Homo sapiens: one gene and its partner. The protein of the gene in region 1 purifies or fractionates together with the protein of each later gene. This does not show direct contact. Each region holds a gene or a part of one and is shown on either strand. Other genes may lie near its edges. The genes, in order: XDH and PLXNA4.

The links.
Region 2: the proteins of XDH (region 1) and PLXNA4 purify together in Homo sapiens (co-immunoprecipitation; one large-scale study listed by IntAct). This does not show direct contact.

Annotation. Positions count from the first base shown.
Region 1 is NC_000002.12:31,338,195-31,342,012, reverse strand, and holds part of XDH (xanthine dehydrogenase/oxidase), read left to right. Parts: intron 1-618; coding exon 619-684; intron 685-2,335; coding exon 2,336-2,524; intron 2,525-3,818. UniProt on the Homo sapiens protein: Key enzyme in purine degradation. Catalyzes the oxidation of hypoxanthine to xanthine. Catalyzes the oxidation of xanthine to uric acid. Contributes to the generation of reactive oxygen species. Has also low oxidase activity towards aldehydes (in vitro).
Region 2 is NC_000007.14:132,566,421-132,570,238, reverse strand, and holds part of PLXNA4 (plexin-A4 isoform 1 precursor), read left to right. Parts: intron 1-3,818. UniProt on the Homo sapiens protein: Coreceptor for SEMA3A. Necessary for signaling by class 3 semaphorins and subsequent remodeling of the cytoskeleton. Plays a role in axon guidance in the developing nervous system. Class 3 semaphorins bind to a complex composed of a neuropilin and a plexin.

The DNA of each region.
Region 1 (3,818 bases):
GGGCCATACAGTCTCTGCCTCAGCTACTGAACTCTACCATTGAAGTGTGACAGCAGTCATAGACAGCTTGTAAACAGATAAGTGTGACTCTGTTCCAATAAAATATGATTTATAGACACTGAAATTTGAATTTGAATTGAATCTCATACAATTTTTACTTGTCACAAAATATTCTTCTTTTTATTTTTCCAGTTATTTAATAATGTAATTATTAGCCTACAGGCCCCACGAAAACAGGGGCAAGTTGGATTTAGCCCATGGAACGTAGTATATTGACTCTTTTGTACATGATCTACCCAGACTCAGATTCAAAGCCCCAGGTTTCTGGGACCCTATCTGACTACTCACGTATGAATGTGTGTTATTCCCAGTTACTGAGAGATCATTGCTGCTCCCCACTTCCTACCCGGCTGCTACAAACTCAGACTCCAGCGGGGATGGTGGCAGCAGAGATTTGGTGGGAACATCAACACTTCTGCCTGAGCACACCCAGGGCTTTCTGCTTGGGAACGTACTCTTTGGTTGGCACTTGTAGTCTGAGGGTCACTATGAGTCATCTGTCATATTCCAAACATCTTTTCCTCCTCTAACTTCTTGTAATTTTGCTGTCTACTCTAGAACCTCCGCACAGATATTGTCATGGATGTTGGCTCCAGTCTAAACCCTGCCATTGATATTGGACAGGTGAGGCTCAGTGGGACCAGGGTGGTGACAGACTTGGCCACCGATGCACCCCATTCCCCTCCTGGGGCCACCTGCCACAACATGTTGTCCAAGGTTGTCTTCAAACAGGCTGAAACATGGAACCTAGGGAGTTTCCCCCAAAGTAGAATTTAGATTGGTGATAGTCCAACCAACCCTCAAGGCAGAAAGCAAATTAATATGGGTCAACTTGGGAAGGGCACTCACAACTCAAAAACAAGATGAGAAATGAGGAAACATGGCATGCACATGTGAACATGCACACACACCCAATTTGAGTGTGAGCACAACGTAGAATGGGGATTGAGTTTGGGATCAATGCCCAGACAGTGGGGTCTGAGGTCAGAAGAGTTTTCTGTCTTCTCATTCCTCCTCCACCTAGGACAGCTTTTGTACCCCAGGAAGCAGATGCTGCCAAACATGGAGTGGTGGAAGGCCCTGGGAGCAAAACACAAAGGCTTAAGCAGAAGTAGTAAAGGGAGGTCCCAGAGAAAATCGCTTTAGGAGAATATGGGATTACTATGAAGAATAGGTGAAATAGGGCTGGGACCTGTGGCTCACACCTGTAATCCCAGCACTCTGGGAGGCCGAGGCAGGCAGATCACCTGAGATCAGGAGTTCGAGACCAGCTTGGACAACATGGCGAAACTCCGTCTCTATTAAAAATACAAAAATTAGCTGGGTGTGGTGGCATGCACCTGTAATCCCAGCTACTCAGGAGGCTGAGGTAGGAGAATTGCTTGAACCTGGGAGGTGGAGTTTGCAGGGAGCCAAGATCCCACCACTGTACTCCAGCCTGGGCGATAGAGCAAGACTCAGTCTCAAAAAAATAAATAAAATAAAATAAAGAATAGGTGAGATAGGAAAAAACAGAGGAGGAATCAAGAATTCAAGACTGAGCATCTGGTAGAAAATACAAATTGTACTTCTAAAAAATGGACAACTACTGAGTATACGAAAATCTGGCCATTAGTCAATCTGTTCATTAATTCATTGAACAACCATTTATGGTCCCCTACTGTGGCCAGGCACCAAGCCAGTACTGCAGACCCAAAGATGATTGCCAGTCGGTTTCTTTTCTGAATGCTCGTTGAGGTATGGTAGTGCCCCATGTCACGCTTCTGAGCAGGGGGCTGAGAGAGCAGATGTGTGGGCCTGTCTATCATGGCAGTTACCCTAGGAGAGACCTGTAAGCTGAACTGCAGTGGGGGCACTTTCTCCCAGAGGACAGGCAGGGGTGGGCGTTCAAAAAGGCTGGAGGTAAGTCTCAAAGAATCTACTATCGAATAAATCCTCCTGTGAGCTTGCTTCTTAGCTTTGGCTCACCATTTCCCCAGTAGCAACATGGAAGGAACATCTCCATCTGCACTGCGGCAGGTTGTAGTGGGAAACATGCCCACCTAGAATCACTGACCTTCCGTGTTAATGTCTTTGCTCTGCCTGAGCCAAAGCCTGGCAGAAGTCCGGATGGGTTATCCCAGGGCTGAGGCGGGAGCCAGGTAAGCAATAGAGGGCAGTTTTAGCTACATTCCAGGCCGCGCTGCAGTTGGCGCTTTGTGTCCATTGTGGCAAGTGGTATCTGTCCTCAGGGAAGAAGGTGGCAGGCTAACTGTGCTCTCCATCCATCCTGCAGGTGGAAGGGGCATTTGTCCAGGGCCTTGGCCTCTTCACCCTAGAGGAGCTACACTATTCCCCCGAGGGGAGCCTGCACACCCGTGGCCCTAGCACCTACAAGATCCCGGCATTTGGCAGCATCCCCATTGAGTTCAGGGTGTCCCTGCTCCGCGACTGCCCCAACAAGAAGGCCATCTATGCATCGAAGGTACCATTGCTCTGGCTCTGTGCTGTCTCTTCTGATCTGCCCTGGGGGAGGCCCCAGCGGGTGATGAGAGGCCTCAGTGACCCACCTGGTGGGACTTCAAAGGGCATATCTTGAGGAGGGAAGATGGTTTGACACTGACCTTGGTAGGGGCAGTGGGATAGTTGGGCAGTCCTGCTTGAGAACCAGTTAAATTGGGTTGAGGAGAGCACCTTAGTATGGTCTGAAGCCCACTTCTTTGGGTGAATTTAGAGGGATTCCTTCATCAAATCTTCTCATTTAAATCCTGGCCCACACCCATATCTCAGGCGTACGTCACTGGTGCTTGATCCTAAGAGATGATTTTACAGGTACAGCATTAGTATGGTCCAATGACAATCAGCACATTCACTGCCAATGGGATAGCACCTTTGTACACACCCTTTTACCTCCTTCAGTTGCCAATACTCGACCTTAAGACTTGATCAGGCTGGGTGCGGTGGCTCATGCCTGTAATCCTAGCACTTTGGGAGGCCTAGGTGGGTGGATTGCCTGAGCTCAGAAGTTCGAGACCAGCCTGGGCAACATGGCAAAACCCCATCTCTACTAAAAATAAAAAAAATTAGCTGGGCATGGTGGGACATGCCTGTAATCCCAGCTACTCAGGAGGCTTAGGCACGAGAATCTTTTGAACCTGGGAGGCAGAGGCTGCAGTGAGCCGTGACTGGACCATTGCACCCCAGCCTGGGCGACAGAGCGAGACTCTGTCTCAAAAAAAAAAAAAAAAAAAAAAAAAAAGACTTGGTCAGATGCCTGGAGGATTGTGTCTTCTATTTCTTCCTTATCTGCAGTAAGTATGAAAAAATGGTTGAAAATTGATTTAGCTGATGCATATAATCCTAGTTTGAAGAAGGAAGGCAACTAATCCTTGGTAACCAAAGAAACATCCATTTGCTCATCTCGTGGTTTACTTTACCATAGTGGGTGGGGAAGCTGGGACATATTGTGACCCTTGCCATTGACTGTCATACTTTACCATGCTTGGGAATTACTGAGGCCCATGATAAAAATGTGCCTTTCTGGGGCCCACGCCTAGAAATTTTGCTCCAATAGGTGTGGCTTAGGGCCCTGGAACATGCATTTTCAGCAAGTATCTTTAGTGATTCTGATATAGGTGGTCTCTGATCTATACTTTGAGGGGGAGAAAAACCAACCTATGCTAGAAAATGTTTTAATTCCTGTTTGTTCTTATGCCTATAATTCCTGCGGATGCTGTAATATGACTATGGTGCCTGTAAATGTTGGTGTCAGAGTTGCA
Region 2 (3,818 bases), on another chromosome or scaffold:
GTAATACTTAAAATAGACTAGAGTTTCCCAAAGTATATTCTGCGGGGGAGTCAATAGGCATTACATGCAAAAAAGTTTCCGCAGTCAAGTAAGTTTGCAAAACCCTGGGTGTAAAGCAAAGCTAAAGATACTCCTTGCTGCAGGACTTCTCAGAGCCTTTAATACACTCACATGGATTGTGAAATCACAAAAGTATATAAACTGTGTAGTGGACCTGGAATCCACTGAGAAACACTGGACTAAGACAAGCACTTTGCTATGACTACTGTCAAATGTGAATAAAGGGGTGGCTTCTACAGTGAAAATTTCCACTGAACCTTTGCATTACGTAAACCAAGTACTGGATTCTGGTGATTGTGTGAGCAATAGATTCTCAAGCAGAATTGTGCCAGATAGGTACAGAGTCCACCTCTGGCCTCAGCATTTGCTCAGCCTTCTTCAGAGCCTATCCTGTCCCTTGTCTTTCCAAGGAAAGAGACAGCTACTTAGGCACGTGTCCATTTTCTTAGGTTCCTAGATGATTCCAATATGTCCCCTTGCTTAAAAACCACTGTTGTGGAAAAAGCTAGGCTTTGGATACAAATAGATGTAGATAACTCTAACTAAAGCATTTTGGGAAAAATCATTTTATGTTTCAGTTTATTGTTTATAAAATGAGGAGGTTAGTCTAGATCGGTGATTAAACATATTTTAACATGTATACAGTGAAAATCTTTGCTCCAGTGAAATTTTATATGGAATTCCAGTGCACAGAACAGATGCAAGCAGGACTATTCTTGTCAAAACTATGGAGGGCCTGGGCCTTGTGCCCCTGCCTGTCTGTCCTTCACTCCAGTCACAGCCTGGGTTCCCTAGAAAGTAGAGCTCAAGGAAGAAGCTATGTGTTATGACTTTATTGAGGGGTGAGATCCCGGGGAAGCAAAAATGAAGCAAAGGAGGAGAGGTAGGGAAGGAAGGAGAACAAATAGTGTATTACCAAGCTGGCCCTGCCTTCCCAGTGAAAAGCAGCTGGTGGCTCAGTCACTCAGGAGGTATCCAGGGAAGCCTGGTGTGAACAGTATGTCTCAGAATAGTCTGTGGTGGTGAGGCACAGCCAGCAGTTAATCCACAGGTCCTTCTGGTCTGCTGTAGCTCACTGGTCACAAGTCACCCCACGAGGCATGAGTCAACTCCCCTCACTTTGGGGTTGGGAATACCAGGTCAAGCTAGAGCCTCTGTGGGTCAGGCCCTGGGGCTGGGGCTTCCTTGGCTCTCCCTGCAGAAGGTATGTCAGGGTTACCCCTGCAGGAGCCCAGCCTTTGACTCTGAAGGAAGAAAAGACAGCAAGAACTTTAGGGCCAGAGGAACAGCAGAAAGCGTCACTGGGGGCCTCTTGTCCATTAGATACTGACTCTGTTTTCCTCCCTAAATACATATGCTTGCCCCTAACCACTGATTGATGTGAGCAACTCACTGACTTAGAGACGTGGGTCTGCGGTAGGGCATCTGCCTGAGAGTTGCGGCTCCTAGAGGGTAGGGTCAGCCTCTGCTTCCAGCAGTGTCTTGTTTAATCAAGAGCTCAATTCCTGCTTTTTAATAATGGTGAAGAAGCTGCTCCTGGCAGTGGCAATGATAACAAGGATTCAACAGGAAAATGGCTGCAGTTCAGAATTGGGGTGGGGTGGCGTGATGTCAGGTGGGACTCAGCAGATTTGGGCAGATACATAAATTGGGAGTCTGGGATAATGGTTTCCATGCAAAGAACATAAAGTTCTTCAGAACAGAGTCAGATGGCAAGACAGGGCAGGGTACTCCAATTAGGAGCCCCAGAATTCACGAGTCTGTGTCAACACTAGTCGACTACACTATTATCCCATTTAAACCCCAAATAGAAACCACATTAAGAATGGGTGCCAATCCGATTTCTGAAGACTTTTCTAATGTTTTGGGGCTTACTAAGCAACAGCCAGCCTTCCGCATAGTGGTGTGTGACTATTTCAGGGATGGCACGGCTGCTGGGAAGCAGGGGGAGGTCGTAATGACCTCTGCCACCCTCCCAGTTTTAAGAAATAATGAAAGCACTGAAATATAATGCAACAGGGGACATTTCTGCATAAAATATTTCCTGTAAGTCATTGCTTCTAGCTAGTCCTGCCCCTCATCAACGTTTTTTACTACTCTTGTGCTTTGAAGGCCCTTTAGGGTCAGGCTGGGGAGAGGACTAATGGTCATGCTGTGCTTGTGACCTCTTTCCCTGCTCTCTTGTCCATTAGATACTGACCCTATCTTCCTCCCTAAATGCACTTGCCCCTAACCACTGATTGATGTGAGCAAATCACTGACCTAGAGACGTGGGCCTGCATTAGGGTTTCTGCCTGAGAGTTGCAGCTCCCAGAAGGTAGGGTCAGCCCCTGCTTCAAGCAGTTTTTTGTTTCATCAGTAACTCAATTCATGCTTTTTAATAATGGTGAAGAAGCTGCTACTGGCAGTGGCAATGAAAACAGTGGGAATCATGTATTTCTTTATGTTTTAGGTTGAGAGGGATCATTTCTTACTTCTTGTATACTCATTGCCCAACCCAGAGCCTATCTTACTGGAAGCAATTGATAAATATTTGCTGTAAAAATAGAAGGAATAAATGGAGTAGGATAAGGTGGAGAAGAATGACCTTAAAAATATCAAGGCTAGGGTGAACCAGACTAATATGGTGGGTTCTTACTCTGCAGCAGGGACAGAGTAGGGATCACATCAAGTCAGACTGACTGGCTATTCCAGAGGATTCAGATGAATCCAGATGGGTACAGGCTGAGCCCCTCAGTTACCCTCCAGCATCCTGGGTCATAGTGGTTGGGGACAGGTAGGTGCAGTGGTCTTGCACATGGATGCACATGGAATTAAATTATTTCTCTCTGTGTAAAACTCACTATGGGTTTTGGCACTGATAGATTGCGGCGGGGGGTGGGGGGGAGACCAAGCTGAATTTAGCAGAACATTCCAAAGACTAGTCTATAAAATCCTCCATGGAAAGAGCATTCTGTGACCAAGTAAGTTTTGCAAGCATCCTCTCTTTTGTCCTCTTCAGGAGATGCATAAGGGCGAATTAAAGGTGAAGAAGACCTGTTGTTGGGAAACCTATTTATTCTTTGCCCACTGCTTTTCAGGTTATTGGGCCATGGGGATCCGTTTGTGTGGGAGTATTTAAGCCTATTGATGTCTCCTGGAAAGACGGTTCCATAGAAAGGCATTTTGGGAGATGGTGACCTTCAACTGGAAGCTTTCAAGTTTTGGTTTACTTCAGAGGTGAAAAAACCAGAAGAATGAATTCACTGTACTGATAAAATAGGGACTTGTAGGGACTTGTGACCCCAACTTTCAGAGGCACCGCCTGCCTCTTGTCCTTGTCATTTGCTTTTGAGACTCCCAGAAATGACTGCGAATTCTCACAAAACTTTAGCGACAGTGGCCTTGTGATCTGCCTTCAGGTGTATATTTCATAAAGAAACAAATTCAAAAAGTGTGAATGCCACTCTGACAGGTTTGTGGACATGTTTCCCACAAGTGGCACTTTTTGGTTGCACATAACAGATCAAGATGGATGTTTGCAAAATATGTGAGTAATGACATTCACCTTCTCAATTTTTTTTTCTCCAACTGCTTGAATAAGAGGCTTCAATATAACTGACAAAGATAAATGTTCTTTATCAAATTAACAAAGGAAGCTTGAGTTATTAAGACACATCTCCCTAAACTTTGGACGGTTGAAACAAATTTTCTCTTGGGAAGAGAAAACTTTGCCATCCAAGAAAAGGCTGAGGATTTCTAATTAGACTGTAAATCCA